Homo sapiens: one gene and its partners. The protein of the gene in region 4 purifies or fractionates together with the protein of the main gene of each other region. This does not show direct contact. Each region holds a gene or a part of one and is shown on either strand. Other genes may lie near its edges.

Evidence for each region.
Region 1: the proteins of PTPN21 (region 4) and LPP purify together in Homo sapiens (affinity purification with mass spectrometry; 2 studies listed by BioGRID and IntAct, with this or other methods). This does not show direct contact.
Region 2: the proteins of PTPN21 (region 4) and WWC2 purify together in Homo sapiens (affinity purification with mass spectrometry; 2 studies listed by BioGRID and IntAct, with this or other methods). This does not show direct contact.
Region 3: the proteins of PTPN21 (region 4) and WWC1 purify together in Homo sapiens (affinity purification with mass spectrometry; 3 studies listed by BioGRID and IntAct, with this or other methods). This does not show direct contact.

Annotation. Positions count from the first base shown.
Region 1 is NC_000003.12:188,148,850-188,157,782, reverse strand, and holds the start of LPP (lipoma-preferred partner), read right to left. Parts: upstream 3,627-8,933; 5' UTR 3,531-3,626; intron 1-3,530. UniProt on the Homo sapiens protein: May play a structural role at sites of cell adhesion in maintaining cell shape and motility. In addition to these structural functions, it may also be implicated in signaling events and activation of gene transcription.
Region 2 is NC_000004.12:183,262,647-183,271,415, reverse strand, and holds part of WWC2 (protein WWC2), read right to left. Parts: intron 6,439-8,769; coding exon 6,309-6,438; intron 5,729-6,308; coding exon 5,648-5,728; intron 5,552-5,647; coding exon 5,465-5,551; intron 2,446-5,464; coding exon 2,253-2,445; intron 1,422-2,252; coding exon of another isoform or gene 1,374-1,421; exon of another isoform or gene 1,369-1,373; intron 337-1,368; coding exon 175-336; intron 1-174. UniProt on the Homo sapiens protein: Regulator of the Hippo signaling pathway, also known as the Salvador-Warts-Hippo (SWH) pathway.
Region 3 is NC_000005.10:168,427,610-168,436,378, reverse strand, and holds part of WWC1 (protein KIBRA), read right to left. Parts: intron 8,347-8,769; coding exon 8,238-8,346; intron 7,673-8,237; coding exon 7,592-7,672; intron 6,243-7,591; coding exon 6,156-6,242; intron 5,128-6,155; coding exon 4,935-5,127; intron 1-4,934. UniProt on the Homo sapiens protein: Regulator of the Hippo signaling pathway, also known as the Salvador-Warts-Hippo (SWH) pathway.
Region 4 is NC_000014.9:88,464,212-88,468,710, reverse strand, and holds the end of PTPN21 (tyrosine-protein phosphatase non-receptor type 21), read left to right. Parts: intron 1-445; coding exon 446-574; 3' UTR 575-2,933; downstream 2,934-4,499.

The DNA of each region.
Region 1 (8,933 bases), on a different chromosome or scaffold from region 4:
CTGAGGGTGAGCCTTCTCAGTGAAGAGCAGCCAAAACTTACCCTGTAAAAGCACTTAATACACGGACATGCCCCACTCCACCTTTTTCCCTCCCCCTCACACACACCACACACTTGTGTGCTCCTCAAAGGCAGGGACCATGTACACCTCATCTTTGTACGCTCAGGGCCAAGCCAGTTTCTGGTTCACCGTAAGCAGGCTCCAACCCCGGGTTTTACCTGCTACCTGCCATTTTCTATCTCCCTGTCTTTTTTCTGCTTAATGCAGCAAATATCTGTGCTAAGGGGGCTACACAGTTCTTATGAGTTACACTCTACCCGTGTACAAAATCCCCATCATCCAGCATCTTCAGCATAGTTCTGAAATCAAATCCGATCTAACTCTTGCCCCATTCCCAATTAACCCAGACTGGCTCAACAGCAGGGTAAAGTCACACGTCACCACCAAGAAGCAAAAGTTCTGGGTTGTAATTTTGAACACATCCCTAATTAGCTATATGACCTTGGGCAAGGGTTAAAATAAAGGTGACAGCAGCAGCAGGCCTCATTCTCAGGGGACCTTTGAGATTCAAATGGAGTATCTGATTGGAAAGTGTTTTATAAAGTGCAAAGCACTGTACATTCATAAACGACATGATGAACAATTTTATCAGATTTAAGCCATCAACTATAAGATGTGCCATTACCAACTTAGGATGAAAAACAACTGCACAACTATGGTACATTGTAATAAGACAACCACATTTCAGTGATATTAAAATGTGAAAAAAGTGTGTTTTACAATTGATTCGATACAACGTATTTGTCTCAATAAAATACAGGAATCTGCTATAAAATTTTCATATTTGCCAATGGTACGTAATAGGTATTCAGTAACCTATGTCGAGTAAATGAACAAGAACCAATTGATAATATTATTTTTCTTGGGGGGGTGGGGCGCAGCAGAGGAAATGGAGTCTCACTCTGTCACCCAGGCTAGAGTGCAATGGTGCAATCTCGGCTCACTGCAACCTCCTCTTCCCAGGTTCAAGTGATTCTCCTGCCGCAGCCTCCCAAGCAGCTGGTACTACTACAGGCACATGCCACCACACCCGGCTAATTTTTGTATTTTTAGTAGAGACGGGGTTTCACGATGTTGGCCAGGCTGTCTTAAACTCCTGACCTCAGGTGATCCACCTGCCTCGAGCCTCCCAAAGTGCTGGCATTACAGGCTTGAGCCATCGTGCCAAGCCAATAATATTCTTAGGCCAAATTATTACCTCTCTCATTGGAATTGGGCAGCAGGGGGCTTCTCGATGCCAGTACCTCCCCTCTAAATCATGTCTCAGCCTGCTCAAAACCCTCAAATGATGAATTTAAGATATATCCAAACTCCTTAGCCTGGCATTTTTAAGCCCCTTTATAACCAAGTTTCCTCTCCCGTCCATCATTTCCTGGAACTGTCTTCACCAGAATGTGTCACTCTAAGAAAGATCCTACTCAAGTCCCAGCCACAGCAATCAGCTCATCAGCTCAGCTTCTCCTCCCTCTGCGTACACTCAAAACCAACTCTAGACCCATGCTGCTTACAGAGAGCCTGCCTCTGGGGGGACTGCCAGACCCTAAGGCCCCAGGCTTTTACCCCTACCATTCAGAATAGGTAATCCCCTCTGGAGCCTACATTCTAGACTATAAAGTTTTGGGTGTTGGGGTTGGGGCCTGCATTGTAGAAATTAAATGCAAAAATGCACACTCTCCTTTGTTTGTTGTTGTTGTTTTTTGTTTTTTTTGAGAGGCAGTCTCCCTCTGTCGCCCAGGCTAGAGTGCAGTGGTGTGATCTCAACTCACTGCAACCTCTGCCTCCCGGGTTCAAGCGATTCTCCTGCCTCAGCCTCCCGAGTAGCTGGGACTACAGTTCCCCGCCACCACACCCAGCTAATTTTTTGTATTTTTAGTAGAGACAGGGTTTTGCCATGTTGCCCAGGCTGGTTTCTAACTCCTGAGCTCAGGCAATCCGCCCGCCTTGGCCTCCCAAAGTGCTGGGATTACAGGCGTGAGCCACCGTGCCTGGCCCACACACTTTTTCCTTTAACTGCCCCCTGGTGCTGGCAGGAACTGTGCAAGCAGAAAAACTGGTGACGAAGTGGAGAAAACCATATTGGATGTCCTAACCCCCCACTGTCCACCATTATTGACCATAGGCTCTAGGTCTAGCACCCACCTTCGTGGACCTTTACCTATTCTTCTATCTATAAGAGTTGAGGAAGGGGGAGGATGGGAGAGGGAGCTAGATGCTTTGTAAAGGTGCCTAGCCACACTTTCCCCTTCTTCACTTTAGGCTTTCTTAAAATGCACATGTGCAGGGAAAGGTAAGCCATTAAGTCATCAACACCTTAGTGAGAGTGAATTTTACAGGAAAGGCAAGAGATTTAGTAAAAGGGGAAGGAATGGAAAGAGAAAGGGGACTGGAAACACAGTTAAGTGAGTTTGGTACTAGCAAAAGCCCCAGAGAAGACCCTGAGTTCTCGCTAGTTGTTTTGTGTTGGGGGAGGGAAAGCAGTGGATCCCTTCTAAGGGAAGGGAAGCCAGAGAGATTTTTCAGTTCTCCTACGACTCCGAGGTTCCAAAGACTCTGCCCTGTCCAAGCACCCAGGCACAATTCCACTGATTAGCTCATCTCATATCACAACCTCCCCCATCCCCAACCCCTTGCCTCCAACTAAAGAATATTTATACTTTCATCTCCATTTCCCACACTACTTAGTCTTCTCTGGCCCACGGTTCCCTCGAAGAGATGTCTTCCTCCAAGCCGCTAGCTGGCTTCAGGAAACTCCTCAACCTCCAAAAACCCCATTCAGTGCAGGACTCTCCAAAAGGCCGTCCCAGGGACCAGAAAATCAAACCCCCTCCCTGGAACTTCCTTTAACTTTGTCCACGCCTTTGCTCCAGCACTTAGCATTTTCTACCCTAGGCCAGGTTTGACTCCCAGGTTCAACTGAGTTCCTTGAGGGCAACGTCCAATACACCCAGCACAGGGTCTGCCACACACAGGGTGCTAGAGAAATGCTTAGAGAAAGGGAACTTAAGTCCGGAGCCAACTATTTGAATTATGGTCTGGCCTCTAGTAAATAACTTCCGGGCGACCCTCCTTCTCTCTGGGCCTCAGCTGCCCCAACTGTAAAATGGGAGGACTTGGAGGACTGGGTCTAGGCCCTTTCCGCTGTGACAACTGTGATTCCGCGAAAGCTCTAAGCGGATGGGCGTGGCCCCGCCCCCTGGGCGCCCAGAAAAGTCCGGGCAGGGGGCGCGCAAGGCTCCAACCCCGCCTAGCCTGGGGTCGACGCTTTTGGAAAAACTCTGGGTCCCCCTCCCCCATGGCGTGCACCCCGTGATTGGGCCGCGGCCGGCACTTCCGCACAGCGGGCCAGGCCAGAGCAGGGCGCGCGCCCTGCGCTCTTGCCACCCCGGAGGCGCTCGCGCCGGGGGAGGGCTGGGGGTTCCCGAGGCGCCCGCGGGTGGAGGGTGAGGGGAAGGAAGGATTTGCAACAATACCTCAGGGAGGAGGCAGCCGGGGCAGCGGCGGTGGTGGTGGCGGCGGCGGCGGCGGCGGCGGCGGCTGGAGGCGGAGGCAGAGGCAGAGGAGGAGGTGCCCGGGCACTCCCCCTCCCATTGTCCCCAGCCCCGGACAGGCCCGGCCCCGCGCCCCACACTGGCCTCCTCGAGCGCGCCGCCCGCGCCCAGCGCCCCACGCCCCGCGCCCCGGGCCGTGCAGCCAGCCCTTACCTTGCAGCGCCCGGCTGTCTCCCGATCGCTAAAGCTACTTATCCCGGGAAAGCTCGCGCGGGACCCGGGAACGAACCCACAGACAAAAAGTGAAACTTCGGCAGGGCTGGAGCGGCTGCTGGTTGGTGCCTTTCCCCCTCCTTCCTCCCCACCGTCCCCACCCCCTCCCCTTGGTCTCCCGTGCGGTGCCCTGAGCGCTGGAGGCTGACGTCAGGGGCCTGAATTCCTGACTTTGCCTGCACGCATTTGTCCATGTAAGGTATGGGAAGGCGTGTGCCCGCGAAGCCGCCGCGCAGAGCTCGCCTGGCGGGGGAGGGGAAACCCGCAGCCGGCAGTGGCTTTGCCAAAAGGTGGGCGCACTGAGGGCATTGCATTTCCTGGGAGGAAGAGGAGGAGACGCGGGAATGCAGGGAGCTTGCAAAGGAGGAAGAGAAAGAGGGAGATGTGGAGACTTTGCCCCTGCTAGAGGAAGAGGAAGGAGACGTAGGAGGAAGCGGCCGCGTCAGGGGGCTCCTGGAAAATGGAAAAGCCTGCGTCTACTATTAAGGCGTCAAATTAGGGCACTGAGCTTGAGTGGAAGAGATCCAGCCATGAAATCCCCTTCCAAGATTTTCCTCGTGAGCCCCGCCCTGGATTCCCAGCAAGACTCAAAACTTACAAGGTGTCAGAGCTGGCAAAGACCAACTTCCAACCCGTCCGCTTGGCACGTGAGGAAACTGAAGCTCTCGGAAGAGAAATGACTTGTACAGGGTCGTCACTCAGCAGATCGAGGAGCGGGCCCAGGCGCTCTGCCTCCCACTTGGGTTCCCGCCTCCAGGAAGGGCCCTGGCTCCCTTTTAGCCCTGAGCCTTGAAGCAGGTTAGATGCCCGCGAGCTGTGCGGACCACCCAGTGATTTCTACTGCTCTTGGCCCAGAGCCAGTTCCTGGAAGGTCCTGGTTGACAGCGAGCCCTGAATATCAATGACAATCAGTTGCTTCAGGGCAACTTCCTCTGTCCTGTGCTCAAATAAATGAATCCCTGGAGTTTAACGTTTACTTCTGAGCCCCGCCCAGAAAGCTTGCTCTGTGCTTATAGCTTCAAAAAAGTCTGCGAACGAGATGAACTGGTTTGAATACAGACAAGCCTGTCATTGGAAGTTTTGAGTTGGATTTTTCTTTCCCCTCTGACATCTGTAAGGGTGAACGACGATGAGAACCACCACTTAACTGTGTTAGGGGATTATGACGCGCAGCAGCCATGGCCAGGAAAGCATTCCATACCCTGAGACTTCCTTTCCTTGCACTTCTCTCCTATTAATATCTAAAGTAATCCCTCACGTTAGCACATAATGAAAGCAGTCTCTCACCCGGCTATTGCATCTTCAGGTGAGTTAGATAGGACAGAGCGTAGTCCCCCCTTTACACCTCAGACAAAAACTTAAGAAACGTTACTCGCCCAACACAAAACAACTGACTGACCAAGCACCTGTCTTCCCCTCCTCCCATCCAGGTCTCCTGACTAATCCCTTCATCTTTCCATACCTGGCCCTGACCTCTAGCAGGACCTAATTCCATTCATAACTGTTGAGAGTACACCATGAGCTACTGATTCATAAAAACTCCAAAAAGTGGTTCTTCTGAGGATGGACTTTAGTGGGATTCTTTTGACCAGGAATTAAGGAAATAATGTAAAAACACATGTTATTGGATTTATTAAGCACCTTCCTTGTGCTTAATAAGTGTTTGAATTCAGACATTTCAGGGGTAAGACTACTTAACCTCTGTGTTCCTCTCAACTATCTAATGTACACATACAAAAATATGAACATGGCTGGGCGCGGTGGCTTACACCTGTAATTCCAGCACTTTGGGACGCCGAGGCGGGCAAATCACCTGAGGTCAGGAGCTCGAGCCAGCCTGGCCAACATGGCAAAACCCCATCTCTACCAAAAATACAAAAAACTAGCTGGGCGTGGCGGCGAGCGCCTGTAATCCCAGGTATTCCGGAAGCTGAGGCAGGAGAATTGCCTGAACCCGGGAGGCAAAGGTTTTAGTGAGCCGAGATTGCGCCACTGCACTCCAGCCTGGGGGACAGAGCAAGACTGTTGTCAAAAAAAAAAAATATATATATATACAAACACATATATATACACATATATATACATATATACACATATATATACATATATATACACATATATATACATATATATATACACACACACATATATATATACACACATACATATATATATATGAAGGCAGTAACAGAGAGATAAGGTCGAGAATAACCACCCATTCCACAGACTAATAAAGAATTTATCTCTTTGCAACTAACATAGTTTGAAATGGGAGATACGGGCTCTTGGAGAGAGTTTTTTCTGGGGTTCTGAAAAGGTCAGATCCTATCAAAACACAATCCACTCACTCAAACATTTCAGCGTACTCACATTCTGAGTACTACTGTTTAGTATGAAAAGAATTCCAGTGTTACATGAAGTAAAAATGGATTATCTCAATCCTCATGGAATATAACGGGACTTGACCAGCATTTCCTTTTTTTTTTTCCTTCAGTAACTCACTTATAAGGAATAATAGGGTCCTAATGAGGATTAAGATTTAATAAGGTGTAATTAGAGTTGTTCATTTCTTCCATCATATACATTATAAGAGTACTGTGCCGGATCCAGAAATGCTACTAATTATGTTGAAACTGTTGTATGGGTGTGTTGGGGAAGTCACTGTGTTTCTCCTCCTGAAATGTTTATGAATTGCTCAGGTGAGCATGGTGAGCATGGTGTTAGCATGAACATCATATAAAGTTAACTACAAAAGATAATTCTGACTCATGAGGAACTTCCCAAGAGTACAACCACCCAAGTCATAATCTGGATGCTTAGTGAACTGCATACAGTGTTGTCGTCAGTGCTAACCCTACCAAAAGCCTCATTCCCATTTACTGTTCTGGTTTCTTTCGTACTCTTACTTTTCTCAACCTCCTGTTACAACTTTCTACGTGCAGGCGCTTGCGTGAAATGGAAAGGTTGTATGAATTTGCACTCAGTGGTAGAAAAATACTGGTTTACCAATTCAGAGGCTAAAACACAGAATTTCAGGTGTAGTGTGGGGTCGTTTGGGCCAAGGATAGCACACTGGTGGCCTAAAGGCTACCAGCAGCATTTTCATGGGTTCAGTAATGGCATAAAAGACTTTTAGGCAAGCTGGGCTTGGGTCCTGCCTTTCGTTTGCATCCATTACAGTCCTGTACACGTGGCCTTTGTGTAGCTCATGCCAGTCCTTATTTGGAGTTTTCATATACATTTCACTTAACTCTCACAAGACCCCTTCTGAGGTTGGCATTATTATTTTTTTATTTTATCCATGAAGAAACTAAAGCCCTAAAGCCCAGGGAGTTTAAGTACTAGCTCTGTGTTAAGAGCTGAGTAAGCTCATTTTTTTTTTTTTTTTTCTTTTTTTGAGGTGGAGTCTTGCTCTGTCGCCCAGGCTGGAGTGCAGTGACGTGATCTCTGCTCACTTCAAGCTCCACCTCCTGGGTTCACACCATTCTCCTGCCTCAGCCTCCTGAGTAGCTGGGACTACAGGCATTCGCCACCACGCCCGGCTAATTTTTTTTTTTTTTTTTTTTGTATTTTTAGTAGAGACGGGGGTTTCACCAGGTTAGCCAGGATGGTTCGATCTCCTGACCACGTGATCTGCCCTCCTCGGCCTCCCAAAGTGCTGGGATTACAGGCATGAGCCACTGCACCCGGCCCCAAGCTGAGTAAGCTCTTACTCAGCTGAGGGTAGGTAAGCTAAGATTCCACACTGATCCCTGGCAACCTGGCACCTTGCTCACCCACTGTTGAGTGACCATCTGCTCTCAGTTTGAACACTCAAGCGTAGGGAACTTATGATCTCCTACAGCTGAGCAAGAGGAAAAGTTCTGAAGAGGCTATTAGAAAAATAATAAGAATAAGAGGGCCATGGGTGATAGAAGGTAAATACCCATCTGCTGTTGCCTCTGAGAGCCTAAAACCTATCAGGCCAAATGCCTCTAGTATGGTTTGCACGGACCTTCATAATTTGGCACCTACTTGTCCCTTCAGCCTCATTTCTTCCAGGCCTTTATGTGCCCCCACCCTCCACCCTCCTTCTAGTAGTTTTCCAAGCACATCTTACCTCTCCCTGCTTATCTCTGTTTGCATATCTTCCCTTTTCCCTCGGGAGTCCTCAGCCTTCTCTTTCAGATAACTTCAAGTGACGGGGCCTGAATGCAAGCAGACCAATGAGAGTTGCCCAGGCATTTGGAAGTAGCAATCAAGACTAGCATGGGGGCCAGGTGCGGTGGCTCACGCCCGTAATCCCAACACTTTGGGAGGCCGAGCCAGGCGGATCACCTGTGGTTGGGAGTTTGAGACCAGCCTGGCCAACATGTGAAACCTCGTCTCTACTAAAAATACAAAAATTAGCAGGGCATGGTAGTACACGTCTATAATCCCACCTACTCGGAAGGTTGGAGCACAAGTATCACTTGAACCTGGGAGGTGGTGGTTCCGGTGAGCGAAGATCACTGATTTTTCATAAGTGTGTTTGATCTCCTCCATGCAAATATAGGATTCTTTATAGTCGTCTTCATGTCTTGTTCATTTCTCTTCCCCAGCAGCCAAGGCAGTACCTGGCACTTGCAACCAAATGCACTCTAGCCTGGTTGACAGAGCAAGACTCTGTCTCAAACAAACAAACAAACAAACAAACTAGCATGGAGAGGGACACAAGAGAGAAATGTTTATGGTCCTTGCCTTACCCTAAATTACTGTGCAACCTTTTGGCAAGTCACTTCCTCTCTATTCTGAGTTTCTTTATCTATTCAATTGGGTTCTTAGATTTGGTGGTCTCTAACACTCTCCCAGTTTTTCAATTTGATGTTACATTCTACCCAGTGACCAAATTCATATTCCAGAAGCATAGTATGCTATGTCATACCGCAAATCTTGTAAACGTTCCTGATATGGTTTGGCTGTGTCCCCACCCAAATCTCATCTTGAATTGCAGTTCCCATAATCCACACATGTAACAGGAGGGACCAGGTGGAGCTAATTGAACCATGGGGGCGATCTCCCCCCACCTGTTCTTGTGATAGTGAGTTAGTTCTCATGAGATCTGATGGTTTTATAAGGGTCTTTCCCCTTCAC
Region 2 (8,769 bases), on a different chromosome or scaffold from region 4:
CTTTTTTTTTAGGAAGCTGGGAAAATCAAAGTTGTGAAAGGAGAAAAGGAAGGACAGTGAAAGTGATAAAAGCATGTTGGTCTCGTAGCATTCCATATTTCATATTACTTTCATATATGTATTTCATATATGTATTTCACATTACTTTCATATTATACTCTAATTTTGACTCACCAAGTCTATAGAATCTACTAACGGCTGGTTTGGTTGAAATACAGAGTCCTCATTTTCTTCATTCTTTTTGCAAGGCATTTGCTTGGAAGGAAGCAAGTTATACCATAGAGTGAAAACCTCACTGGAAAATGGTAAATCTGCCAGGCTGATCTGAGTTCCAGCCTATGTAAGTGAAAGAAAACAAAGAAAAAAAAATAAGGAAGAGAAAATAAAATGTTTAAATTAGTATTTGTTCTGATATAATAAAGATTATTGAATGAGCTTGTTTTAGGGTAAAAAAAACACAATTCTCCTGACATAAAGCATTGCTGGATTTTTTAAAACATGGGGATATGTTATATTTTCAGCTGTGACTAAGTAAGAAATAACCCCCAACCTAAAAGCTAATCCTGGGATTAGTTTGTGAGATACCATTTTGCGAAGACCTAATGACTAAGCATGCCTTTTATGTAAATGTGAAATTATTGTTATTATTTTTGAGATGGAGTCTTGCTCTGACTCCCAGGCTGAAGTGCAGTGGTGTGATCTCAGCTCACTGCAACCTCCACCTCCTGGGTTCAAGCGATTCTCCTACCTCAGCCTCCTGAATAGCTGGGATTACAGGTGCGCACCACAACACCCAGCTAATTTTTGTATTTTTAGTAGAGACAGGGTTTCACCATGTTGGCCAGGCTGGTCTCGAACTCCTGACCTCAGGTGATCTGCCTGCCTCGGCCTCCCAAAGTGCTAGGATTACAGGCATGACCCACCACACCCGGCCTCATAGTACTTCTTATAATATGCTGTAAAGGTGACTTACTCACAAACAACCCATTATCCACTGAAAAAAAAATAAAAACTCCACTTTGGTTCTTGAATAAGACATCAAAAAGCAACAGTTTTCTTTAGATACATAAGTTAGTAGAATGGCAAAAAAAGTAAAGGATAAAGGCTTTCCATATTCCACCAAATCACACATAGACAAAATCTAAATTCAATTACACTCTTCTTTAAGGCTATCAATATAATATTTATGAACTTTGTGGGAGCCTCTGACATCTATTATACTAAATATGACATCTATGATACTAAAGCCTTTCTGATAGCCTAACGAGTCTGTTAGCTCTGCTTCTTTCTAACTTTATTGTCAGACAATATCATCAGATATTTTTTTCAAGTAAAGAAAACAAGAAGAAAAATTAAGAAGAAACCTACCCCTCTTAAACTTTGTTCATCATGAAACATGTGTTTCTGTGCTTCCCACTGGACTGCAGAGAAAAGCTCAATTGGAGACTCACATTGTTTTCTGAACACATGGCACATCTCTAGATGCCTGCATTTGAATACTTATGTAACTTTACTGGGACATAATGGTTTTCTGGTTATTACGCACAACAGTGTATTAAACTCACAATTAGTTAACTGTGAAGTCTTCTGCTGTAGCATTTAAATGTCATATTGCTTTAAACAGTAACATCACATCTTCCCGAAAGCTCCAATACTGTGGTGGAGGAGAATGAGGTGAATAAGGGTACTATATAGTACTCAGTGGTCTTGCTTAATTTTAATTTGTAACAGTGAATTATGTAATTATGTGGGGATATCTTTTTGATATCTGGCTTCATCGCTTACTAGTTGTATGACCGTTGAATATATTACCTCTCTAAGCAGCTCCTTATCTGAAAATAGTGGATAATCATCCATTTCATAACCAATCTTTCATCAGGTTGTCATGAGGATTAAATGAGATAATATATACACAGCAGTCACGCAAAGCTTGGCATTGGTACTGGGAGTGGTAAGCACACTCCATGAGTGATAGCTGTCACAAAGGTAAAGTTCTTCTGTGGTGAAAAGGTAGAAATAGAAAGCAACTTTTACAGAAAATCACAATTTATAAGCAGATTTTAAAGGTCTGGAATAAGAGAATAAACAGAAACCACTACTTCAGAAAAAAATGAACAAACACTAGATGTATCCCAAGATGTTGGGCAGGTCTGTAGTGATTTCTAGGGCTGGCAAAATAGCAACTACAAAGTATATCCTCAGACCACCCAATCTAAGTGCTATTTGGTAATGGGAATTATGAAGAATCCTACCAGGCATTCTTCCCTTCGGTGTTTACTGACAGAGCAAAGGTCTACCCTCAGTGTCTTCTGTTGTAAGGCTGTTTGGGAAATGGCGACTCTGAACACATCATTGAATAAAATGGATTCTGTGGGCGGATGAACTTTTGTGCGAAACAGACAGCTGACATCAGTTGAGGAAGGAAGAACGGCAACCCTAAAATATCTGCAAAGAACAAGAATAAAATGGATTTCATAGGTACTTTAATTATACCAGATTCACAGCTATCATTTGAAATTATCTGCAAAGAGAGAAAATGAGGGATCGTGGAGTTCAAGATCAATCTAAAGTGTTGCTGCCATCACGGGTCCGTGCTCAGCTGCATAGATGCTCTGTCCTTAACCCACCCGAGCTGACTACGCCCCTGAGCATGCAATGGCCCAGCCTCCACTCACCACGAGACTGCAGCAAAGGCACATGATAGGAAAGTGAAGAGGAAGAAAATCCGTAGGGCAGACGAATTTAACGTCCCACCTGCCCCATGGACAGCCAATTCCAAAATAAGTTATTTCTGAGCCTGGGAAGGTGGGAACACACTAAGTAGATACTGGTGACTTTATCTCACAGAATCCTCATCCTGAGTATTAAACAAGAGATGCTGATGATCACCTCCCAGGAATGGAATACATTATCCTACTAGAGAAAAAGAAAGGCTCAGTAGCATATTGTTAAGAAAATTTAAAACAGATGAAACAACGGTTCAAAAATATCACTGTCTAGCATCTCCAAATTCTGAGATACGACAAACTGTTTTAAGAGTCCCGTGCTTTGTAAAATTCAGAGGAAGAGTTATAGAAAAACAATAACTTCTAATACTACCTTAAAGTGACTCTTCTGAGCACACATTGTATGAGGACCCACAATTCTTAGAAAGAGCGTGAGGTAACTTCCTTTAAATCCCAGGAAGAGAATACCGCTAAGTCTATCCCCTCCACCCCCATTTCCAGGCTTGTCTAATCTAGATTCTAAAACATGCCTTTCTCCGTTAGAAAAACTGTAATTCAAATGCAGAACTGAGGAATGTCATATTATTTTGTATTTCATATCAATATTAATTATGGAGATTCAGCAATGAAAACCTAGTGGGCCTGAAGCCCACTGCTGTTGATTAAAGAGCCTTACTAAGACACAGCTCACTGTCCCTGGGAGGCCGAAGATTCAGCAGAAGAAAATCTTTTCTGCTTGTCACAATTAATAATCAAAAAATAACTTTTGAGGTTGGGAAAAAAAAGAACAATTTTAAGAATATTTCATACTAGCTGTCATGTTTAGCAGTGTCATTATTTAGGCCAAGGCTTTTACATGTGGGTTTAAGGAAAGATTGCTATATATGTCAGGAAGGTTCGCACCAACTCAACAAGTGCCTGCACATTAGCTGGGGAGCCGAAGAGCAAATGTCTGCTCATTGGTTGGGCTGAGTATTTCACTGGTCCTACACTACGCAGGTATCACCATGCCTCCAGAAGGGACTTGGTGACATCCTATGAGGTAAGTGAGAATGACTGTGATTGGTTTAGTTGAAGTAGAGCATATTGCAGGTGCACCCTTACAGTGAGTTTAAAGAAGGTGTGTGTTCTTGGGGTGTTCTGTAGTTTTCTCCTGAAGTTGTGCATTAGTTCTCACTGTTTATTGTTTCAGTCTCTGGTAGACTTGTCTTCTCCATGATTTGCTTTACTAAAAGGCCACCAATGGCATGCTCCAACATCACAGCTTATCTACTGGTAGGGAGAAGTCACAGTTTATATCAAGCCAGTCTTCCTGGACACCGCTGACTGGTGTTTTTCATCTCGCATTTGGGAAGCAGGCTCTCTGCGTTGATCTAGGCACTTCTATGTGATGCCTGCTCTCCTCACTGGTCTCACTAATGATGTGGACAGTCCACACTTTGATTCAGGAAGTTCTCTAAGCTCACCCTCCTCCTGGAATCCTATCCTACCTCCAGCTTTGATGCTTGTCAACACATTAAAATCTACTATCTTGGCTGGGCTCGGTGGCTCACGCCTGTAATCCCAGCACTTTGGGAGACCAAGGTGGGAGAGCCCAGGGAGTTCAAGACCAGCCTGGGCAACCCAGTGAGACCCCATCTCTTAAAAAAAAAAAAAGAAAGCCACTATCTCTATTCTTCTATTGTCAACTACATAATTTCTATCTAGTTCTTTTTCTCTTAGATCCAGTTTCTTCTTTCTGATGATTATTGGAATGTTAGGAGGTGAACTTACAAGCAACTCTGTAGGAAAAACATGCAGAACTCTTTAATTTATTCTATTAAAAGTCTTATCACTAAGGAATATACTCTATCATTAAGGAAAACATTCACCTGGCTGGGTATAGAGTCTTGGGGATCACCCCTCAACAGCTCTTTTTAAATTTCCAAAGCCTTGCACTGCATATTCAAAATATTATTAAGATCCACTTCTTACAGGAAGTTTCAATGCAGAGTGGACATGCATATTCCGGATTCTACGTCATAGTGCTAAGTCGAAGTCTGGATTCTTCCTGGTACTTTCCAGCCATGAGCCCTTCAGAGTCACTGAAACTCTGATGTCAGAAAATGTGAATGGTGGTGTCTAAGACTTCCAGACTTATTTGTCATGAGATCTTTAGGCTTATCTGTCAGGAAGCAAAAAGTCTCTAAGCAATGGACTGTGTAGCATTATGTCATCACTTTGTTGGGATTCTTGGTTTGATGAAGTGAAATAACTTTAAGAACTCACTGGTCACAGGGAAGTAAATGCTTGATGATAAAAACATACTCTTACATGTAGCATGATAAAATGTTTGACTGGCAATGTTGTACAGATACATAAAATTTAATCACTACATTTTAATGTAAAAGATTAGAAAATTCCTTAAACAACAGTAGTAACAATTACACAAAAACAAAAATTTTACCCATATTTCAATCAAATTCCAACACAGCATAAAACAGTGCTTCTGGTTACAAAAAAGAGATTAAATGTCTTGGCTTCTACTCTTAGAAAGAATCAGTTGAGTAAGAATTAAAACTCAATATGTCTTCCTCACATTTCCCTTCTCATCTTTATCTGCCATTCATTTAGACATGATCAGCCCTGCTATGTCTTTTCCGTATCTTCATTTTGATGAACTGTATGATTACAGTGTAAAATTCTCTTACATGGAAATGTTTAAGTTCCTCAATTTGATCTTCGCTGATTTTACTTACACTTTTGAAGTATGAGGTATCAAGAAGGCATGAAGGTTTCGGAGCTGTGCTATAATCACCATGAAACTTGAACTTTTTGCATTGTATCTGTCAAAAGAGAGGCTAAATGAAGTCAGGAATCACCACAGGCCACTTGCCCTGCACAGATGTCAGAACTGCTCCTTTCCCACGTACATTCCTTACCTGAGTCCTATCTGAACCTGGGCGGTCTCTACAATGGCTACATCCTCTTCACTGTATGTGACATCTTCCATTTCACTAGGTCTATATGGACAGGGAGTAGATGAACAGTTAATTAATGGGGTTATCGATTGTTATGGTTAACAGTTTGCCACTTAGTGATTCTGAATGAAAATCCAAATTAACAGCACTCCTATGCCCTCCCAGTGGAACTGATCCCAGCGAAAGCTTACTGTTTCAGAGGCTCTTTTCAAGAAGAGCCCGCCTCTGGGCTTTAGGGCAAAGCCTCTCTGATGACTACTTTCCTTATTACTAGAAATATACCACACCCTTGAGACATTTCAGACTTTCAGAAATACACGTGAGAAGCTTCATGTGCCAAACAGGGTCTGGTGAATTCTTCCAATATTCCCACTAAATTCAAGGTTTTTAAATTCTAAAGAGGGTCAATTGCCTCTGGGTACACCAATCTGTTTATCGATAATTTCCATGGCTAAGTCATTTTTGATATACTGAACTTTTCAGGCACACCACTTCTTTAACGGCTAAAGTCCTTACTAAGCCAAAGAGCGGACTAATGGTAGCAGTCCATTTACAGCATATAACCCACATCCACGGCGATGGAGATTCGCTGGAGCTAAAAGCGCCCCTGCTGAATCCTTACTGTTTCACGAAAGCTTCATAGACCCCACTGTCTCCAGCCACAGACTCATCAGACACAGCAGCCGACACACAAGTGGTTTTCTCCCCAAGCAAGTGGATCACTCTTCTTTTTGGTAATGATTTTTCCACATCTATGGAGGGGAGGGTGAGAGCACTAATCAGAATGTCTTATTTGGAAAAGTTAAGTATTAAATACATACATAGTTTGGTCATGAGCAATCCAAAATAAGATTTCCTTCTGGGAGTCAAGGATGTTAATATTCAAATCTACAGCTGTAAACAACTCAAGGCACTATGACTTATAAGATTCCTGGGACGCCAGTTTTTTCAGTCATTACTTGGAAGAGAATATGGTTTTTCTTTGTCCTGAAATATTTTAAGGGAAGGGATGAATTACACAAATTCTCATTGGTCCTTAGTCTCTTTCTTTCAAGCATTCACTGCAGTGTTCATATATTCAGGAATAGGAAATGATCTATCTCCCTCAAGTGACATTTCTATCACAGAGAGAGCTTCTAGCTACTCAATGGATAAGTTTCCACCTCTTTTGGTCTCCCCTTCTCTCCACATGCCATATCCTACATCTCCTGTGCTACTATTCTAACAGAAATAAAGAAAAAATGTCTTTGACTCACAGGAACTCCTCACCAGCCAATACCATTAAAAAACTTTTTGTGCTACTGAATCTTTAGTACCAATGACCACTTAACTTTTATCTCGAACTCATATTCATACACCAGCATCCTGCAGTGAGCAAGGAACATTCATTTAAGGCTGTGCTCTGTACTGTAATGAGCTGCAAGCCTGTGGTGCTCTTTCATCCTCCAGTGAGTGAGAGTGAGCGCAGGGATCTGTATTGGTATGCATTTTGGCCCCCTTCTGAGCCGTGACTTTACATCTTGTGAAGATGTTTAAGTTTTAAGGCTTCAGATTACAGGATTGATTGCTGCATTTTCCACTTTATTTCTGGCAGTGGGAATGCTTTTTCCTTGATGATGAAGTGCCTTCTCTCCGCCCACCCCCCTTTGTGAAGGGTGAAGGTGATGACATGATTTATTGATTACCCCCAGGAATAACCACAGCAGCCTGAAATTGACTTTGACAATGACAGTGACTGACTGCGGAAGGCCTTTGCAGTTATTCCAACGTGGTTGGTGTCATCCAGCAGGGACTGGCACTGGACAGCAAAGTTTACGTAAAAGGGACTTGACTTTACCTGCCTAAGCCTCTAGAGCACTGAGGGAGATGACAAACGTCCCTGATAGGGAGCCACCACCCCACATGCAGGGCAGACGTCCCCTGAAAAAAAGTGCTGGTGACTTGAAGATAATTCATCTTTCCTTTTTTTGAGACAAGGTCTCACTCCTGTCACCTAGGCTGGAGTGCAGTGGTGCAATCTCAGCTCGTCGCAGCCTTGACATCCTCCTGCCTCAGCCTCCTGGGACTACAGATGTCTACCACCATGCCCAGCTAATTTGTGAGAATTAGCCTTTATGGTTAAATATACGCTTTCACTTGTTTTCAGACATGCAACTGAATATTATCTGCAATCAAAGCTCTTGGATGTATTTTCTCTTAGGGTAACTTTTTAACAGCAGTTTTCTAATATATGCATTTAAAAAGTTAAAAACTGTTTCACAAAGGTTCAGAGATACTGTCTCCATCCACAAACTTTTCAGACACAGCAAGACCCAAGTGTCAGGAGCAAGGCATGGGCCAACCAGACACACTTGCAAGACAGGACTCCCAGACCTCAGGGTTACTGGGTGGGTGACAGACTTTAGGCAACTTTTTCCCTCATCACTCTCTCCCCTCTTCTCCAGCATCCAGCCTCACTTACTGCCCCTCCAAATTGGCTGAATGTTAGAAGTGGTCACTAGATACCACTCCAAATACAGGAAGAGCAAAACTACCTTGAAAGGTCAAAAGATGTAAGTTCAAAGCACAGGAAGGAACGCTGGCACAGAACATTCCATTTTCTTCTCTTTCTTCTTCTCATAGCTTTCCATGGTTTACAGTAAGAACTGTGTTTAGCCAGAGTTTATTACTTATCATCATCACTGTCACAGAGTACTAATAATTACCATGAACTGTGTGCTGAGTGCCAGACACGGTTAAGTGCTTCACATGTTATCACTGCATTAAATCCTTCAGCCTGACACAAGGATTACTGTAGCAACCCCATTTTGCAGATAAGGAATCATAATCCTGAGAGATTGGGTAGTGTGCTTACCCAAACACGTTGGTGACTAAAATGTGAGTGGAGGCTTGGCTGGTTCCAGGAGTGGTATGCACCCCCTAACACACACACACACACGCACGCACGCACGCACACACACCGTACTCCTTCCCAGAAGCAGTGGTGAAGGCCCCACGCGGCTTTCTGTTTTGTTGGGGCCATTATGTACACACACCATTCCCCTGGTTATTTTCTTTGTGGTTATTTCCATAACCTGCTACTT
Region 3 (8,769 bases), on a different chromosome or scaffold from region 4:
TGAGGAAGAATCAGCAAAGGAGACCAACATGCTAGAGGTGAGGGGAGAACACTGGAAGAGCGAGGTAACCAGGAGGCCAAGCAAGGGCAAAGGATTTTGAAGGAGGTGGAGTCAGCAACTGTGGCAAATGTAGCTGGCAGGTCCAGAAGGAAGATGGAGAGCTGGCCTCTGGTCTGGTAACAAGGAGCTCCCTGAGGAACATGAAGAGCACACCCTCGGTACAAAGATGAGGGCCAGGCCAGGCACGGTGGCTCACGTCTGTAATCCCACCACTTTCGGAGGAAAAGGTGGGTGGATCGCTTGAGGTCAGAAGTTTGAGACCAGCGTGGCCAACATGGGGAAACCCCATCTCTAATAAAAATACAAAAATTAGCCAGGTGTGGTGGCGCGTGCCTATAGTCCCAGCTACTTGGGAGGCTGAGGCAGGAGAATGGTTTGGACCCGGGAAGCGGAGGTTGCAGTGAGCCAAGATCACGCCATTGCCCTTCAGTCTGGGCAACAGACTCTGTCTCAAAAATAAAAAAAAAGAAAAAAGAAAGATGAGGGCCAAAGTCCACATGGATTGGGTTACAGAGAGGAAGGGAACACCTCTTTCAAGTTTTTCTATAAAGAAAGGGAAAGAAACAATGTAGTAGTTGGAAGTGGAAATGGGGTGAAAAAAGTTTTAGGTCGGGTGTGGTGGCTCACGCCTGTAAACCCCAGCCCTTTGAGAGGCTGAGGCGGGAGGACTGCCTGAGCCCAGGAGTTCAAGACCAGCCTGGGCAACATAGTGAGACCCCATCTCTACAAAAAATACAAAAATTAGCCGGCCATGGTGGCATGTGCCTGTAGTCCCAGCTATGGGAGAGGCTGAAGTGGGAGGATCACTTGAGCCCAGAAGGTCAAGGCTGCTGTGAGCTGAGTTCACAGCACTGCACTCCAGCCTGGGCAACAAAGCAAGATCCTCTGTCAAAAAAAATTTTTTTGTTTTGTTTTGAGCATGGGAGAAATAACAGCATGATGATATACTGATAGGCTGGATCCAGTGGAGGAGGGAAAATTGAAGATAGAGGAAAGAGCGGAATGGCTGCTGGAGTAATGTCCTTGCGAGAAAATGGGGGTGGTGGCCTCAGACAGGAGTGCAGAAGGCCCACCCTCAGAAGCCAGGGAAATGGCAGAACCTACAAGAACAGCCAGATATGGTGTGGGGGCCCTCTTCTGAGTCTGTCCTCTCTTCTCTCCCTGAGAGAAGTATGAATTAGTCATTGTGATGAGTGGGTGAGTAAATGGTCCAGGGAGATACAGTATAATTTCTGGGCAGCATTGAGGGCTCATGGGAAGTGAGTGATCACCATTTCCAAATGATACCATACAGCGTGGTTGTGTGCATTTTTTTTTCCAGTTGCTCAGTTGGAGAGGAGGGGGTGGAGAGTTCACTTTGACAGGGCTGGGTTTTGCCAAGTTAGTATGCCAAAGTGAGAGGAGGCAAGGGAACGGTTGTAATGGTGAACCATGGGACGTCAGTGGGGCCTGAGAAGCAGGCTAGCTCGAGAGAGCCCGGGCTGGGTGGCATTGAGCTCAGCAGTAGAGCAGTGGGCAACTAGGCTCCCTGTGATGCCATGCAGGGCATTTGGTGGAACTGTTGCCTGCGATATTGGGAAGGTGGGCTGTGTATTCCTCCAAACCTGTAATCTGGGTCTGGGGACATGAGAGACACTCATAGTAACCCCCTGAGAAGTAGCATGGTGAGATGGCTACACATAAGGAAGCTGGAGTCTCTGTTCAAATCCAGGCTTTGCCATTTTCTCCTTGGATGACCTGGCAGCTTACTTAGCCTTTCTGGGCCTTGATCCCTTATCTTCCTGGGGCCATCACGAAGATTAAATGAGATACTGCACATGAAGTTCTTAGCCCACTGGTAGACACATAGACTCAACTCAGTACAGATGCTGTTGCTGCCTGGCTGAAAACAGACTGGGGATTCCACACATCCTGCTGTCCGGAGTCTCTGCGTGGGAGAGGACAGGCCTTTTTCCTCCCATCTCACTTCCTCTCCTCCTCCAGCCACCAGAATACGACAGCCTGACACTCCATGTCCCCACCGTATATGGGAAAGGAGGTTTCCCATTGGCCGCAGGCAGAGACAAGCCACAGTGAGATGAGCGCTTTGGCTGCTGCCATGGCAACCAGCAATGACCAGACTTCAATTAGGAAGGAGGAATAAAAGGCATCCAATTAGGAGAAGAAAATAGGATTGAGCCTCTTCTCGCTTAGGAATGCCCAGGGCCAAGGGAATGCTTCGCTGGAGGAGCCCAGGCTTGCCAACCCCTTCAAGTCACCACCCCCATCTCTGGGCTCCAGGGAGCCCTGTGCTGGCAAAGAGACAACACAGAGGCGCTGACGTGTGTGGACTTCAGAGGGAGACCTGCTGGGGTTCAAATACGGCTTCTGCCACTTTCCTAACTGTGACAGGAAAGGTCTTTCACCTCTTTGTGCCTCAGTTTCTCCACTGGAATACGCTACCTATTTTGCAAGGTTGGAGTGAGGATCAATAGAGATAATGGGCTGGGGTGGTGGCTCACACCTGTAATCCCAGAACTTTGGGAGGTGGAGACAGGCGGATCACTTGAGGTCAGGAGTTCAAGATCAGCCTGGCCAACATGGCAAAACCCCGCCTCTACTAAAAATACAAAAATTAGCCGGGTGTGGTGGTGGGCGCTTGTAGTCCCAGCTACTCTGGAGTCTAAGGCAGGAGAATTGCTTGAATCTAGGAGGTGAAGGTTTCAGTGAGCCAAGATCACGCCACTGCACTCCAGAGACTGAGAGCAGGACTCAGTCTAAAATAAAAAAAACAGATAATGCATGTAAAGAGCTTAACTCAGTGCCTGCCATATAAACTGCAACCTACTGGTATTAACTACTGCATTATTGTCAGTAACAACATCAATAGCAGTGATGCTGTGTTGTACCCAGCTAAGAAGGAGAGATGGGAACCGATATCCAGTGAGCACAAACTGCAAACACTTTGCTGCTCTACATTCTTGCTACCCAAAGTGTGATCCAGGAACCAGCAGCATTGGCCTCACCTGGGAGCTTATTAGAAATGCAGAATCTCAGGTTCTGCTCCAGACTTGCTGAATCAGAATCTGCATTTAGCCAGAGCTCCAGGTAACTTGTGTGCATGGCACAGTTTGAAGCGCTGCTTCAGCGCCTTAGTTAGTCTTCAGAGAACCACCTCCAGGAAGGCAGTATGAGCCAGATTTTACAGATAAGGGAACTGAGACTAAGAATTGAAGACTGTGAGGAGACACAGCTGGAAGGGCAAGGCTGGTGACAGCCCCAGGCCACAATCCAAGGATGTGGCCCCACAATGCCATGATAGAGAAGGGTTTTATAGCGCATGCAGATCAAGGCAAGGATGGAGAGCAAAGAGATTCCCTTCTCTGGGCAAAGGTCTGTGATTTACAGCAGGAGAAAGGGGCGAGCCCTCCAAGAAGGCAGTGAGAGGCTCTACATTCCAGCTTCCAGAAATGGAGGCAGGAGAGGCTCGGAGAGGTGTATACATCTTGTTTTTCCCCTTTGCACATACCCCACATTTTCCTCCATCACTTCAACCCATCCATTTCCAACACGGCCCTCCTCACAGTTTGTTTACATCTTAGCCATCAATGCTGGCACCTTGTCTGTTTGGTTCCCCATTGAATCCCCAGCCCCAGACACAGGGGTGGGGACACAACAAGCTCCCAGTACAGATCTGAGCATGAGTGGAGCGACCTTCTAGGTATAATGCCCACACTTGGGCTCCTTTGTGCCCACAGTTGAGTTATCATTAAAATATTCTAACACTAAATGGCATCAGGGTTAACAAAGCCCTTTACTTCTTCTAATTCACTTGTACATCACAAGCCCGAGTTAGCTATTATATAAATCCCCCTTCTACAGATGGGAAAGCTGAGTATCTGTCTGCACTTGGGTCTGCCTGTCTCTTAGGACAAAATGTACTTGGGCTACTTCATCCCCAGTCCTGACTCCTGCCAATGCAGTGAGAGATGGAAGCCGGAGAAGGTCAGTTTCAGGGAGGAGGCTGGCAATGGCCCCACTAAACGAGAACCCACTGTGGATCAGACACTTGAATAGGTGTTTTACGGGTGCTATCTCAATCCTTATAAAGATTCTTCCAGTGGGCATGATGGAGGCATTATCATTTGCATTTTAGGGATAAGAAAAATGAGGATCAGAGATGTTAAGTACCTTGCCCAAGGTCATCCAGCTATACAGCAAGTGGTAAAGGTGGGATGTGAATGCCTATGTGTTTGCTTTCATTACTCTGTGCTTTTTTTTTTTTTTTTTTTGACACAGGGTTCTGCTGTTGCCCAGGCCAGAATGCTGCGGCATGATCAGCTCATTGCAGCTCAAGGGATCCTCCCATCTCAACCTCCAGAGTAGCTAGGACTACAAGCATGCACCACTATGCCTGGCTAATTTTATTTTTTGTAGAGATGGGGTCTTGCTGTGTTGCCCAGGCTGCTTTCGAACTCCTGCACTTGAGTGATCCTCTGGCCTTGGCCTCCCAAAGGGTTGGGATTACAGATATAAGCCACCACACAGCCATAGTCTGTGCTTCTTATCTAATCTCTCATGCTGTATAGTAAAGCTGCAGTATGTGGCTTTTTCCAGGTTCTGGCAGTTTTAAAAGGCACTTTCAGGTCCATTACTCTTCCTCTTGTGAAAGAGCTCCTTCCCTCCCACCCTAAGTCTGAGAACAACATTCACCTGTGGAAGCCTCGCTGCCTAGAATCCAAGATGAGCCTGATTGATAGCACAACCTGCGTCTCCTTCGAACCTTCTTCCTGAAGCTCAGGGTAGACCAATCCCCATAAACACAGAAGGCCGGTCAGCCAGCCAGCCAGCCAGCCAGCCAGCCAGCCAGCCAGCCAGCCAGACACGGCCCTTACCAGGCACTCTTCCAGATGGCTCCTGTCGGTGGTACAGACATCGACTCTTAAGGTCTTCTGGTGAAGGGCTGGATAGGACATGGATACCCAGAACACCTCATTGAACACTAGAGTGTCTGAGGCGTCCAGAGGCCGGGTCCGGAACAGGCAGGTTGTGCTTTCAGAGCAAGGAAGGACAGCCACGCGGATATTCCTAGAGGGAGACAGAACCGCAGGAAATCTTGGGTCAGCCCATGTCTGGGGCTAAAATGTTGGACTAAACAGCTGCTGAAATCCCTAAGCAAACAACAGTGGATGAGAGTTTGTAGAAGTGAGGAATCTGGGGAATCAGGCCCCTATACACTGGAAGGAACTTTGACAAATCGAACAAAATTCCAGATGCATTTGTCCTTTGGTCCAGACCCTTCACTTCTAGGCATTATCCCACAGATGCCCCTGCATGAGTACCAGTGAGCTATGGAGGAGGCTATTCAGCCTGGCACTGTCTGTGTGGGCAGAAGACTGAAATTGACCCAAGCATCCCATCTTGTCTTCCTTCCGTTTTGTCCGCCTTCCTGCCCTTTCTTCTTCCCACATGTGCCACCCTCACAGGCTGGCTGAGTGTAGACCACAGACACATAAGCTTCTGTTGCCACCCTCCAGGCCTTACGATCAGAGAAAACTTGGAGGCAGATGAGTGCAATAAAGGATAAACCCATCTACCATGGGAGGAGCCCACAGGCAGACAGAGCAGGTGTTTGCATCCTACCAGCATCAAGGTAACACGCAGTCACACCCCTCCAAGAGAAGCAGTGACTGGTGTTGACTCTTGGAAACAGAAGACCTATCTCTCTCTGCAAGAAACACTTGAGCTTAGGAGAAGATAAAACAGACTGTGACCATTCTTCTCCATGAGGCTCAAAGTCCAGGAGGGTAGGGCCCAGGAAGGATCTGCTCACCACCCCATTCCTAGAGCTGGCATGCAGCAGGTGCTCAGCACGTAATGGGGCAGGAATTCACACAGTCATCTAGAGAGTGCTTGTCTTTACAGTTGGTGTGCTTGCCGTTGTGCCTGTATTCACATGCACAGCACCGACATTCAGCATCACAGTCATATGCAGTACAAACCCACAGTGCCTTGACAAGGCCCATAACTGGATCAGGACAGGGCAGAAAAGTGACCCCCAGGGGTAACTCCAGAGGGTTAGGGTATGAAATACACCTGTCCAGCTACATACTCACACTTTCTGGTCTTGTTGCTGCAACAGAGCAGAAAGGTTACTCAGCTGGATGATTAATATTGCAAATTGCTTATTCTTCTCATCATACCTGAAATGAAAAGGGGCATATGAAGTACCTATTAGTAACACACTCATCTCTCTCATTCCTTCTCTCCATTAAAAGTCACAGGACGTGGCTGTTGGCTGCCCTGGGGCCTATGGTGAGCTCTAGAGCACAGGCCCAGTGCTTTGCTGCCATGCAGGGATGTAGAGCTAGAGCTGCCAATTGTTTGAAAATTTTTTTTTTGTTTTGAAACAGGGTCTCACTCTGTCATCCAGGTTGAGTGCAGTGGCATGATCGGGGCTCATGGTAGCCTCGACCTCCCAGGCTCAGGTGATCCTCCCACCTCAGCCTCTCAAGTAGCTAGGACTACAGGTGTTCACCACCACACCCAGCTAATTTTGTGTATTTTTAGTAGAGATGGGGTTTCATCATGTTGCCTGGGCTGGTCCTGAACTCCTGGAATCAAGTGATTCCTCTGCCTCAGCCTCCCAAAGTGTCAGGATTAAAGGTGTGAGCCACCACACCCAGCCAGTTGTCTGAATTTTTAAAAAGAACCCATAAATGCGGGTGAAATTTCATGATATGGAAATGTTGTCAACTAATTCCTATTAAAAAATATTGAAGGCCAGGTGTGGTGGCTCATGCCTGTAATCTCAGCACTTTGGGAGGCCAAGGCGGGCAGATCATTTGAGGTCAGGAGTTTGAGACTAGCCTGGCCAACATGGTGAAACTCCATCTCTATTAAAAATACAAAAGTTAGCCGGGCGTGGTGGCACACACCTGTAATCCCAGCTACTTGGGAGGCTGAGGCAGGAGAATCGCTTGAACCCAGGAGGCAGAGGTTGCAGCGAGCTGAGATCACACCACTGCACTCCAGCCTGGGTGACAGGTGAGACCCTGTCTCAAAAAAAAAAAAAAAAAAAAATTGAGATCATATCATCCCCCAACAAAAGAAAACAAAAAGAACAACCATGTGTGTATTGACCCAATCTGGGCTGCAGCCCCCAGTGATCAACTTCCATCCAGATCAATGAAACCTAGATGGGATGGAAAGACAAAAGCCACAGCAACAATGAACAAACACACTGAGAGGCAGGAGGTCTCAGTCCCAGTCCTGGCTCTGCTACCAGCCAGCTCAGTGAGTTGGGCCAAGTCATAAGGTCTTTTAAAACCCCATTTCTCCAACCTCATTTCTCCTATCTGTAAAGCGGATGGCTGGGAGGTGAGGAACGAATCAGCATCCCTTCAGTTAAGAAGCTGCAATGGCCAGCAGGTCCTGCTGGTGCTGCCTTCCACCCTGGGCGGCTGTGAAGGTAAATGCTGGGGAACGCTGTGGATGAAGAAGGGACCCCACACAGACCGTTCCTTCTGTCCTCCTCGTCCTCGTCACTTACTTCAGGGCAATCTGAATTCGGGTCGCACCCACTGCTTCCGATTCGTCACTGTCAAATGCAGCAGCTTCTGAAGCACCCAGTCTGAAAGGCAACAGGGGAGGAGGAGTTAGGCTTCCCTACAGTGAACAAACTATTCTGGGAGGCTGAGGTTACATCCCCAGGAAGGAAAGTTGGGGTTTGCTCAGCTTCCCTTCAGGTCCTTTTTTAAATTTTAATTAAAAAAAATTTTTTTTAGAGATGGGGGCTCACTATGTTGCCCAGGCTGGTCTCGAACTCCTTGTATCAAGTGATCCTCCCACTGAAGCCTCCCAAGTAGCTGGGATTACAGACTCACACCACTATGCCCAGCTTGGACTCCTCTCTTAAGGGGCCTTCCCTTTCTCTAGTGCTTGCTCCTTAGCCATATACCTTTTTCGTAGCTACCACAGAACTAGCACTCCCCCAAACCTGAAGCATCTCTAACCCCAGGAAAAGTTATGCTGTCTGTGCCTTGGGCAGCCAAGAGGAAGGTGGGGTCATGCCCTCTTGGGGCTCCTCCCACACACTGTGGGGGCCAAAACCTAAGCCTCTCCACAGGCCTAGGCTCTGGATATTCAGAGTTCATGGCTTACAGGGCCACAGAGAGAGCCAGCACCCAGACACCTACCTCTGCACGGAAGCCTCGTACACACCACTGTCTCCAGCCACTGACTCGTCCGATACGGCGGCTGAGACACAGGCCACTTTCAGGCCACACCCCTGGGCCGTATTCACAGCTAGGGAAGGAAAATGGAAAGGCAGGTTCAGGAACCAGGAAACTGCCTTTGCGACTCCCAATTTTGTTTTGTTTTTGAGGCAGGGTCTCACTCATCCAGGCTGGAGTGCAGTGGCACAATCATGGCTCACTGCAGCCTCGACCACTTCGGGTTCTGGTGATCCTCCCACCTCCGCCTCCCAAATACTGGAACTACAGGCATGTGCCACCATACCCAGCTAATTTTTGAATTATTATTTTGTTGTAGAGATGGGGTTTTGCCATATTGCCCAGGCTGGTCTTGAACTCCTGGTCTTAGGCGATCTGCCTGCTTTGGCCTTCCAAAGTGTTGGGATTACAGGCGTCAGCGACTGTAATCCCAACACTTTGGGATTCGGGGAGCCTGAACTCCCAATTTTGATACACTCTCTATGGAAGACAGACG
Region 4 (4,499 bases):
TAAATAAAGCTGTTTAATTTTGTTTTACTTGCCCAGGGTTTTTCAAATTTGAGCTCAGAATTCTTTTTCTGTTTACATTTCAAGGATGATTCATGCTGCCCAGAGCCCTTGAGGGAAATAGCTAGATACTGATAGCACTTAGCACACTATGTTTTTGTATAATTTTGGTATTTAGTGAGACATGGTAATTATGTCCAACCATACAAAGTCAGTGAGCTACACCTGGGGAATGTTGAAGAAATAGTCTGCATGGACATTCTATTTATAGCTAAAACTAATCAGAAAATCAGAAGTAGGCAATCATGGCTTATTTCTAGAAGACGCTAAGGTGGAAAAGAGACTGTCCATCTCCCAACCAGGTTTCTGCCAGGACACTCGTGTCCTCCCATCCTTTCTGTCTCCCCAGGGGAACACATTATCTTCATTACCGTTTCTCTCAACCTAGGTGCTGGACATCCCGAGAGTGCTGGACATGCTGAGGCAACAGAGAATGATGCTGGTGCAGACTCTCTGCCAGTACACATTTGTGTACAGAGTCCTCATCCAGTTCCTGAAAAGCTCCAGGCTCATCTAAGCTCCCACAATTTCTTACGGGGCCAGTCATGTGAAGCGTTTACAGCTTAAAAAAAAAGCGCTTGCCTAACTCATACTTTCCCGTTGACACTTGATCCACGCAGCGTGGCACTGGGACGTAAGTGGCGCAGTCTGAATGGCGGCACGCTGAAGGAAACGTGCGAAGCACAGGCTGAAGAGGGGTTTCTAACCTGGGAAAGGTGCTCAAGGAGGACTTGGTTTCAAGGGCCTTGCCCTGCCCCGGTCTGTCCGGTTTGCAGTACTTGCACACATTTTGGAGATTGTATTTTCTAGACAATTCTCTATTTTACTGAAGCTATGCTGGGCAATTCTGGCAATCATTAAAGTGCATAGATTTCTATCTTAAACTAATTTTTGATAATGGAGTTTTTATTTTATGACAAATATTTAGGGATTTTTCTAGTGAGAAACAACTTTGTGTAAGGATGATCCACAGATATGAGTTGCTCCTATATAACTTTGTATTTAAAAATCATGTTATTATCTTTTGTTATTTTTTAAAAACCTTGGGTACTTAATAATGGTTTAGTTGCCAAACTGAAAACTATACTGAGAATCTGTGTTATTTTGAAACATCAAAAGGATTTTTCTATCCAGAACATTTTTTATCCTAAAAATTCTATATAGTTGTACCTTCTGTTTTTCAAATGAGAGCTCAATTCATTTAGATACTGAAATGAGTCAGTTAATGTAAAGTTGAGGATGAAGGCACATTATTTAAAATGTAAGAGAATAAGCATTATTTTTTCAGTATTATTCATAGATCTAAATGAATTTGATTTTATTGGTTGAAAATGAAGTGAAAAACAATTGCCTAGGGTGGTTTTAAGCACTTTTTTGTTAAAAACAAATCTGAGTTTTAATATATGTGTTGCTTTGTAGATGACACAATAACAATGGGCGCTGAGAAGCGTTTTGGGAGAGATTAAGGACTAAGAGTATGTAAGATGACTAGGACAAGAGTAGGTGGAGTGTGATGGTAAATGCAGGATGCCTTCGTCTTTACAAAAATGCAGTATTATCTATACTCAGACTGAGGTGCTGGGATGGCGAGCAGGGGACCCCACAGCACTGTCCCCAGGGAATTCAAGTCCTGTGACCGCCAGTGACTTACTCCGTTTCCTTGGGGCTTTTCCCACCTCAACCTGTATTGTTTCTTTTTCATAAATAAATTCAGCATTATAGTATCATTAAAAGAAGCCTTAAAGAGGCGTATTTTTCCTTTTGGTTGAAGGAAGGGAATAGTTAATAATAGTTTTCACCTCTTCTCCCAAAAAGTACAGTCCAAATTTGTGCACAGAGATTGCTGTGGTATTCAAGAGGTACTTGCATTTTAGCTCCTTAATAATTCCCTGGCCAGTGTTAGCTGTTTAGTGCCCCCTCACCCATCCCATTTAGGCACATCCCAATAGACAGAGCCAGGCTGAGTTACAGGGGGAGAGTGTCATCTCTGGCCCCGATTAAGATGGCCTTGTCACAGTGACCGCTGAGTAGGCATGGATGAGTGGGATATTTAGCTGAGGAACCCTTTCCCTTTTCCTTCTTTTTGGGGTCTCTTCTTACAGTGAACTTCCAAAATGTCAAATCTAGGGCTGTTTCCCAAATTACACTATTCTAGGCATCATTTTGATTCCCATGTCACTCCTTAACTCACTTCCTTGAGCACTACATGTATGTTGTCAGCCACGAGACAGGACTTCCTAAATAGTGTGTGCACCAGCCTAACTCTGCCTTACCCAGAAACCAACCACCTAAGAGGAAAACTCAGAAGATATTAATGAAAACTAATTGAAAGTACGCACACTTCTCATGTAGGAACAAAATTAAAATTTTACATTTTTATTTTACAAAATTAAAAAATTACATTTTGTAGGAACAAAATGTAAATTTTGTAAATACAAAATTCTTTTTAAAGTCCTGTTTAAAGAACAGTAGAACTAAGTGAAAATATTCAGAACGAGCTCCTTAGAAGAAAGGAATAAGAACTTTTTACTGGAACTATTTTCCATCTCTAGAAAAAGTGCTTCTTCCCCTCCCCCTCCCTCTCCATGGTACGTTTTTGTGAAAATGCTTTTCTGTCAGGTTTAAACAAACAGTTTGACATAGCTCGTTGACAAGAACATATTGTAAAACAAATCTAATTAAAGAGTAATATGTGGTCTATTTGTGTTCCTGTTGTAATAATTTGATAAGTAAACTTCTGAGGGCAAAATTACTGTTTAATATTACTCTTAAAATGTTGCATGTTTGGCGTCATTCCTAAGAGCCATGTAATTTTAAACTTTTAATTGCAGTTAGTGAATATGAAAGGATTTCTGAATAAAAATCTATCCACATTACTGAGCTTTGAAATAGTATCATTTTCAAGAGCAAACTAGAACATTAAGGGTTCATAGGTTTACTGCCTCTGAAATGAGTATATTAATGTCTGCCAAACTTACACAATGCTTCATGTATCTTAGTGTCTTTTAATAAGAATTATCAAAATGTGCACTTCCACAAAACGTAGAGTTATAAACCACTGTTTTCCACTGATCAATTTTGGTATCTCTGGTATCAGTTTTCCTGATTAGTGGGGTCTTTTGATGAAATAGTTTAGCTTAGTTGGTAGTTTTGAGCACAGAAAGTACTCATTTTATTTTTTATTTTTGAGACGGAGTCTTGCTCTATTGCCCAGGCTACAGTGCAGTGGCATGATCTCGGCTCACTGCAACCTCTGCCTCCTGGGTTCGAGTGATTCTCCTGCCTCAGCCTCCTGAGTAGCTGGGATTACAGGCATGCACCACTATGCCCGGCTAATTTTTGTATTTTTAGTGGAGACGGGGTTTCACCATGTTGGCCAGGCTGGTCTCCAACTCCTGACCTCAAGTGATCTGTCTGCCTCGGCCTCCCAAAGTGCTGGGATTACAGGCGTGAGCCACTGTGTCCAGCCAGAAAGTCCTCATTTTAGAATATCATTTGGAATGCTTATTGTAGTCATTAATTTCTTCTGGAACATCTACTGTGAAGCATTCAGAAAATGCTAGAACTTAGACTTTAAAACCCTTTGGTCGAATTAGAAGCTGGGCCTGTGCTTCCTTAGAAACGTCCAGAAAGCAATGTCTAGCCAGAAACAGGAGGAGGAGGGAGGAGAGTGTGGTGTTGTGGGACTGAGTGGCGACAGCATGACGTGGCCAGCTTTTCTGTGAAGCTTTCACCATCAGTCATTTCAGAAGGGTTGAGATGTTAAATGTTCACAATATTAAGAAAATTTAAATATACAACTATGTACAGTAATATAAACTGGAGATTAGCTGCAGCTTGCCAAGAGCAGGTTTATTATTTGAGATTTGCATAAAGAAATGGAAACAGGAAATTATTGTAAATAAGACTTTTTTTTTCTTTTTTGAGACGGAGTTTCGTTCTGTCACCCAGGCTGGAGTGCAGTGGCACGATCTCGGCTTACTGAAACCTCCACCTTCTGGGTTCAAGCAATTCTCCTGCCTTGGCCTCCCAAGTAGCTGGGATTACAGATGTGCGCCATTACGCCCGGCTAATTTTTAATTTTTAGTAGAGATGGGGTTTCACCATGTTGGCCAGGCTGGTCTCGAACTCCTGACCTCAGGGGATCTGCCAGCATCGGCCTCCCAAAGTGCTGGGATTACAGGCATGAGCTACCATGCCTGACTGTAAGTCAGACTTTTTAAAGGAACTCTTTTGGATAGAAATGTAGTTGAATTTGCTTATCAGCAAGATTTCATGTGGAACAAGCTAAAACTATCCCTTTCCAGTTTAAACTTAATTTTTTAAAAAAAGAATCTAAATTGCAGGGTGCTTTCTTTTGAGCTGAGGGATGGACATTTCAAAAGTAGAGGAATAGCTGCATTAGAAATTTGCCTGGGAAAACATTTCTCAAAAGAATATGA